Homo sapiens: one gene and its partner. The protein of the gene in region 2 purifies or fractionates together with the protein of the main gene of each other region. This does not show direct contact. Each region holds a gene or a part of one and is shown on either strand. Other genes may lie near its edges.

Region 1 (3,278 bases), on a different chromosome or scaffold from region 2:
GATGCAGGTAGGGCAGGTGAACTGTTGCTGGCCTGGCCAGCAGGCCTAGGGTCACATGGTGATTGGCGTCCTCCTGCCACCCCTTCTCCATGCCAGGGTGCCTGTGGTGGGTTTGCCCAGCACGCATGACCCCAGGTCCCAAGGAGAGTGTGAACTGAGGCCTGGGTGGTGAAGGCAGGGCCTCTCCTCAGCCCTGTGTCCTGTGGGTGCCAGCCAGTCCCATCTCGCATTTTGGGGTGCCCTTTCCCTGCTGCCAGGGGACTCTTCATTTGTCCTTACCCTAGAATCAGCCCAGACACTGGACATCACCCAGACGTGGCCCTTCAGGAGGTGCACAGGGCAGGGGCAGGCCCGTCCCTCCCTGCCCCAATTTGCTGGGCTGCCTCAGCCCAGGGTCTGGCCTTCTCCTTGGTGAAGGTCTGCTGGGCCCCTGTCCACCTCCTGCTGGGAGGAGGAGATGGGGAGAGGACCAGGAGGACACCGGAGGCCCTGTCCCCTGCACTGTGAGCTCAGTCAGGTCCATGAGCTGCCCACCGTCCTGGCCTTACTGTGCCCCCTGCCCCACCAACATAGGTGAAAGCACCTCCCCTCTAAGGAAGACCATAGAGACCCCAACACTGTGGGACCCCAAAGCTCCTTCATGCTCACTGGAGCTCCCACCGTGGGTGCTTGCAAGTCCTCAGCGCTCCCGGGGTACAGCCCTCCCCTTCCTGCCCTCTAATGTCCTCCCCTCCCTTGCCCTTCCCTCCACTTCCTTTCTCTGCCGTCCCCTCCTCTCCCATCTTGTGACCTCTTTACTGGCGGGGCCTGGAGCCCATGATGGACACTTGCGGAAGGAGGGGTGGCGGAGCACCCCTGAGATGACATCGCTGCCTGCCCCAGAGCACCCCGCCTCTCCCTGTGACTCAGTTCTTTGCAGCCCAGATGTGAGCATGTGCACCCTGGGACCTGCTGCCCGTTGGGATGCCCAGGCCAAATCAGCCCCTCTGCCTCCATGCTGCACTGATTGCAAGAGTTTCCCACATCTGCAGAGGCCGTGGGCTCAGCCCCACACCAGCCAGGCCACCAGTGTTGATAGCGGTGAGGCGGGGACAAAGGGAATGTCTCAGTTCACAGTGTGGACATGGTGGAGGTCTCGGCCTTGCGAGACAAGGCAGGGGGAGGGGATAGGAAATTGGGGGTATTCTGTGACTCCTGGGCCACCGGGGAGCCAGAATCTTCCAGCCAGACTGGATGGGCAGGGCTTAGCTTCCTGATGCCGCCCATTCACCACTTTCACCCCGGGAACCTACCTGGGCATCATGGGAGGCAGAGCCTGAACCCCAACCCAACCCTAACTCTAATGCTAACCCCTAAACCATCCCCCACCCTAACCCAATCCTCGCCCTAACCCTAATGCTAACCCCTGACCCGACCCAATCCTAACCCTGATGCTAACCCCTGACTCAACTCTCACCCTAACCCTGATGCTAACCCCTGACCCAATCCTCACCCTAACCCTGATACTAACCCTTAACCTAACCCAACCCAGCCCTAACTCCAACTCTAAAGCTAACTCCTAACCCTAGGAGAGGAGCCCAGGCCGGGCCCTCTCCCTGCTGGTTTCCTGTTGGGCTTTGGAGCCCCAGATGCCTGCCCAGAGGCTTCCTTGTGCGGGGTGGGGTCCAGCAGTGGGGGATGGGCCCAGAGCTGGTATAGCCACCAGCAGAGCCATCCTGATCCACAGGACCATCCCTGGTGGGGTGGGGCCCCCTGGGGCAGGAAGGCCACTGAGGCCAGGGAGACTCCCAGGCCCACTCACGGCGCAGGCCCCACAGGAGCTGGCTGGAGGCTATGGGTGCGGGGCGTGGGCCTGCCGGGGGTTGCGTGACAGGCAGTGGGGAGTGGGTTGTGCTGGCAGCTGTGGGTGAGTGAGGAGGCTCCTCTCATGAAGGGCCCTGGGGAAGTGGAATCTGGCCCTGAGAGACCCCCGGCCTCCTCTGCAGGGGCTGCTGGCAGGAGGGGAACCGGGGACCACCTCCCGCCACAGAGCCTGGGGCCCCCAGCCTTGCCTACAGGGAGGGTAGATGAGAGTGTAAACTGCATATGAGGTTGGGCTAAACCTGGACATGTGTTTCATAACCAAAGCAGCCAGGAATCTCCGGCTCTGCCCAGTGATCATCTGGGCAGGACATGGGGACGAGTGTCCAGGCTGAAGTCAGGGCCCGGCCAGCAGAGGGCCATTTTGTATTGAGCTCCACAGCTGGTCACATTCTGTGGAATGTGCAGACGTGCACGGCCCATCAGACAGGGTCTGGAGTGGGGCTGCCGTCTTGGGCAGCTCCTCCCGGGTGTCTGCAAAATGCAGAGGTCACCAGAGCCAAGGCAGCAAGGCAAGGAGCCCGGCTTCTAAGGAACTCTGAGCAGGTGTGGTCCATGGCTGGGAGGCAGCTGGCCCCACAGCACATAGCACGGAGGGCGGCGCGGAGTCCTGGACGCTCTTGGCAGGTCCCCTCATGGAGGATGTGGGGGATTGGCTTAGGCCTGGTCTGGCTGGCCTTCCTGGACCGCAGTGGCCAGGAGCTGAAAACCGTGACCCCAGTCTCCCTGCAGCTGTTCTTGATGGGATTTCTGTTCGCCAGTCAGATGCATTTGCACAGGACTTGGATCCTGAACTGTGTAACCTGGAGAGGCAGGTGTGAGCGGGCCATGCTGCTGGCCCAGCCTGTGCCGGTGTCTGTTTCTGTTGTCTCTCGGCCCTTCTGTGAGCCCTCAGTAAAGCTCTTCGTGCTTCAGTCAGCAAGTGTGGATTCTGTCGTCGGCAACTCTGCGGCCCAAACCCCGAGCCTCCCCCTCCCCCAGACCTTGCAGTGCCATGGAGCTGAGGGACCTGTGGATCCACAGCTGTGGCCCCGGAAGGGCTGCAGGAGCTGAACCTGCGTGAGCCCCGCAGAGGGTGCAGAGCCGGCTTGTGCAGGCTCCCAGCAGGCTCATGACAGCGCGGATGGTTAAATGTAGCTCCTGACAGCCAACTGTTAAGGTTTCAGGCATTTTTGCACCAGGTGACATGATGGTAGCCTGAACGTGACCTTGGCAGCAGTCTCTACATCAAGGAAACTGGCAAATGTCAACATGCTGGGTACCCTCGCTCCTGCCGCCGCAGGCTGTCAGTGTCTTCCAGCCCACACTGCGGGGGGCCTTGTTGTGTGGCTGCCTCCCAGGCTGGGGCGAGGGTCTCCAGAGACCACCATCGTGCAGGCTCTTGGTCAATAGCAGGGTGTGGTGCTCCTGCCAGGGGA
Region 2 (4,125 bases):
CGTGTGCGGCAGTGCACCAGCGCCTCCGTGGGCAGCATGTGCCAGTCCGTCACCACCTCCGGCGGGAAGGCCACCAGGTACCAGGTGCACAGTGCGACCTCCACCAGCATGGCCAGCAGCACCACCAGCCAGGCCCAGGGCCCCCGCAGGCAGCCACTCAGCCGGTCTGCCCAGCTCAGAGGCAGTTCTGACTCCACGAAGATCTCGGCCGCCTGCAGGAAGAGTGTGCTCAGGCAGCCCGTGAGCGGGAGGTGGGACAAGGGCTGCTGGGCCAGGCATCGGGCAGGGCTGGGCTGGCCAGGGAACAGGAGGACGCTGAGGCAGACCAGGCCCAGGCACACCAGGCCAAAGCAGGCCAGGGGCCCCCCCGAGGCCTGAACCAGTGGGCTGTCCCGATGGTGAACGAACAGCCCCAAAGCAGCCAGCACAAGGCCCAGCGCCAGGCTCAGCAGCAGGAGCAGCAGCAGCACAGCCGGCTCGCCCCATGCCAGGAACCGAGACCTGCGGCGGAAGCAGCGTGTGCTTCGCTCCGGGGACCACTCATCCTGGCCACAAAAGGTGCAGGCGATGTCGTCTGTGAGAGAGGAGAAGGGCGCTGGGTGTTCGTCTTGTACCCTGTGGGCTCTGGTCTCAGAGTCAGGACTTGGCAGGACCCTCCCCTGCTGCGTTCCCACCCCCGCCTGCCGGGAAGGCGGCTCACCTGGGTTTTGCCGGTAGCTGCCCGCCTCGCAGTCCACACAGTCGTAGCAGCAGGAGTGGAACCCCTTGACCCGGCGCACCTGGCCCTCCTGGCACTGCCGCGAGCACCGGGACACGGGCTTCTGCGCACAGGCCTGGGGTCTGGCTCTGCTCGGCTGGGCATGCCCACGGGAGACTGGAACGGCCCCCACCCCCAGGCTGCGCCCTGCCGCGGGGGCTACCACGGGCACGCCTGGCACACCCACCCTCACCTCACCTGGTTGTCAGACGTGTGCCAGCGGATCTTCAGGCGCTCTGTCCTGAGGCTGCCGTTGAACCTGCCCACGTCGTGGAGCCTGGGCACTGAGCCCTGCCACACCCACAGCTTCAGGTCGTACTCCATGTCCACGTTTCCGCTGCTGTCGAACCGCAGCGGCAGCCCGCCCACGTGGAAGGTCAGGTTGTACATGTTCTCCAGGAGCTGCGGGCGGGGGACGGGGCTGAGCCGCCAGCCACCTCCAGCTCAGGCGTGGTGGCCGTGCCTGGTGGCCTGGGCACATGCAGAGGACAGCACACCCCCATCTCCCGGGCTCACCTGCCAGGGCTTCACGGGGTCCTGCGCGGGGCAGCCTGAGGCGTTGCACTGAAGAGTGTTGTGCAGGGCCTGGGCCACGCTATACACAGCTGCGTAGACAGAGAACGTCTGGTGGTGATTTAGCCCTGCGCTCACGTTCTGCAGCGTGATGCAGTCACACTGCGGGCAGCGCTGGCCCACCACGTCCTCCTCCAGACCCTGCTCCCTCTCGCCCAGGGCAGAGCAGAAGGCCGGGTCGGTGGCCAGGGCCAGGTGCGTCTTCACGTACTGGGGGAACTCGTGCAGCTGGGCACCCCTCTGGAGGAAGCCAAGCACCGTGCCCATCTGGGCCATGCCGGGCAGCCCCATGACCAGGTCAGAGGTCAGCCAGGCCTCGCTGGCCACCCACACCTTGGGCGAGAGCCTGCTGCTGATGCTGTAGTTGAAGAGGGCGTGGGCGGCGTGCACGGAGGCGAACAGCAGCACCACCTGCACGCTGCTCTGGTTCACCTGGTGCAGGACGTCCTGCACCTTCCCCAGCCGCGAGTCATCGGCACGGGGCAGCGGCACCAGGCCCTCGTGCGCGATGCAGATGCCGCGTGCCGCGGCCAGGGCCGAGAAGATGCTCAGGCCCTGCCGGCCGTACTCGTCGTCGCTGCCCAGGGCGGCCACCCAGTTCCAGCCGAACTCCTGCAGCAGCTCCGCGGCGGCCGTCAGCTGCACACGGTCGCTGGGCACGGTGCGGAAGAAGGAGGGGAAGGTCTCCCGGGCGCTCAGCAGCTCCATGCTAGCACCGTAGCTGACCTGCAAGGGCCAAGAGGCATCTCCTGACACAGGGGCTCCCACGGGCAGGGCTGGGTGGGGGTGGGTGATGGTGGGGGGCGCCCACCTGGGGCATGAGGAAGAAGCTGAAGAACTTGCCGGTGACCATGGCGAGCTCTGACGAGTGGGGCCCGATGACAGCCAGCACACGGGGCTGGTACTGCGTGTAGTTGCAGTAGGCGGCGATGTCGCGGCTGCCTGCCTTGGCCAGGAACATGAGGCTGGGCTTCATGGCCACCACAGGCTCCGAGCACGTATCAAAGAGGTCGTAGCCCAGGCGCAGCCCGGGCAGCAGATCCGACTTGTTGTTGATCTCCTCCACGGCCATTTTCATGGCCAGTGCCCAGAGCAGGCCGTTTGAGGAGAACCTGGGGCCACACAGAACCGCAGATGGCCACCTCGGCCCCAGCTCAGGAGCACCCCAGACCTGGTCACCCTGACCCCGACCCAGGCCGTCCCACCTCTGTACCTGGTGCACACAGGGCTGCTGGGCCGTGTCCGGCTGCGGAGGCCAGCCTCCTCGGCCTCGCCCAGGGGGAACAGCCCCCCCAGCACGTAGTCCCCCTTCATCCTAAGTTGCTGTGACAGGCACAATGGGGCCCCCGTCCCAGGGTGCAGGAGAGCCCAGAGGCTGAGGCCCAGGACAGCAGGGCCCAGCATGGCAGAGGCAACTTCCAACAGGCACGGCAGGTGGCTGCCCCGACTGGGGCCTCACATGGAGTGAGCCCGGGGCGGGGAGCGGGCAGAGGATTTGTTTAGCAAAACCCTTGCCATCCTCACTTGCCACACCCTGGGGCCCCAGTGGTGTCCTCGCTTCCTGGGCCTGAAAGTTTGTGCGCGTCAGACTCTGCCTGAGGCCACTGCCAGGCTCTATGGCCAGCGTTGACCGGCAGGCAGGCTCTGCTCAGTTGCTGGCCGTGGCCTTGTTCCCTGCCTGTGGCTGAGCCCCTTGCCACCCCCCGATTCCTGGAGTTGCCCAGCAGGCTGTGGAGAGGAGAGGGGGCAAAGGGGCCTCCAGGGCTCTGAGGTCTCAGCTGCGTGGGAGGGATGCAGAGACACCCAGCCCTGGGGCTTTTCATAAGCACAGAAATGCCTCCTACCCAGCCCCGGGAGCTTCTGGCTCCCACTCAAGGCTGTGCTGGCCGGAGCCGGGGGCAGCAGGGATGGGCCCCCTAGGCCTGCAGACCAGTCAGGCCAGTGGGCAGCCGGCCAGCCAGGCCTCCACCCTGCAGCTGGGGAGGGCCCTGGGGTGGTGGTGCTGCCCTCCCAGTCTGCTTGGGAGCAGAGTTCCTTGAGGGTCTCAGCCCTTCTGCCAGAGTCTGACGCCTGGAAGCTGTAGGAACCGCATGGCCAGCTGTACTCACACTGCTGACCCCCGTCTGGGCCACTCCTGCGTGGCAGGCACACAGGTGGCTCCTGCTGGGGGTAGAGTTTGTTTGCCAGGGGGGCACGCAAACAAGGGAGGAAGGGCCACAGGCAAATGAGCGGCAGCTGGAGCAGCACCAGGTGTGCAGGGCCGGGACTCCTCTGCCTCTGTGTTGCTTTGGGGGTGCCCTCGGGGACACAGCAGACTCCAGGCGCAGGCCCTCCCAGGGGAACTGGGGGGCACTCAGCTTCAGCTAGGGCCTGGCAGACCTAGCAGATACCAGGAGGTGTGCCCTGGCTGGTGCTTCTTCCCCATGGTGTTGTGAGGAGGACCTGTGAGGGACACACACTACCACCGCACATGCATATGGCACATGCTGAGCACACGTGAATATGGCGCACATGCGAACCTGGCACACGAGCACAGGAATGCGGCACACACACAAACGGCACATGCGCATGGTACACGCGAATGGCACATGCACGGCACACGTGCATGGGACACGCACGGCACACGCAAGGAACACATGCATGGCATGCAAACGGCACACATGCATGCCACACGTGCACAGCATACATGCAAATGGCACACGTGTACGGTGCACACGAATGGCACATGCGCATGGTACACACAAATGGCACACGCACGGCAAGTGCATGGCACACGCGCATGGCACACACAAAAC

What was found. The genes of interacting proteins can lie anywhere in the genome.
Region 1: the proteins of TAS1R3 (region 2) and LRRC3 purify together in Homo sapiens (affinity purification with mass spectrometry; one large-scale study listed by BioGRID and IntAct). This does not show direct contact.

What each region holds. Positions count from the first base shown.
Region 1 is NC_000021.9:44,459,419-44,462,696, forward strand, and holds the end of LRRC3 (leucine-rich repeat-containing protein 3 precursor), read left to right. Parts: 3' UTR 1-2,778; downstream 2,779-3,278.
Region 2 is NC_000001.11:1,329,955-1,334,079, reverse strand, and holds the start of TAS1R3 (taste receptor type 1 member 3 precursor), read right to left. Parts: upstream 2,801-4,125; 5' UTR 2,735-2,800; coding exon 2,544-2,734; intron 2,443-2,543; coding exon 2,142-2,442; intron 2,057-2,141; coding exon 1,274-2,056; intron 1,160-1,273; coding exon 956-1,159; intron 822-955; coding exon 701-821; coding exon of another isoform or gene 575-700; coding exon 1-574. UniProt on the Homo sapiens protein: Putative taste receptor. TAS1R1/TAS1R3 responds to the umami taste stimulus (the taste of monosodium glutamate). TAS1R2/TAS1R3 recognizes diverse natural and synthetic sweeteners.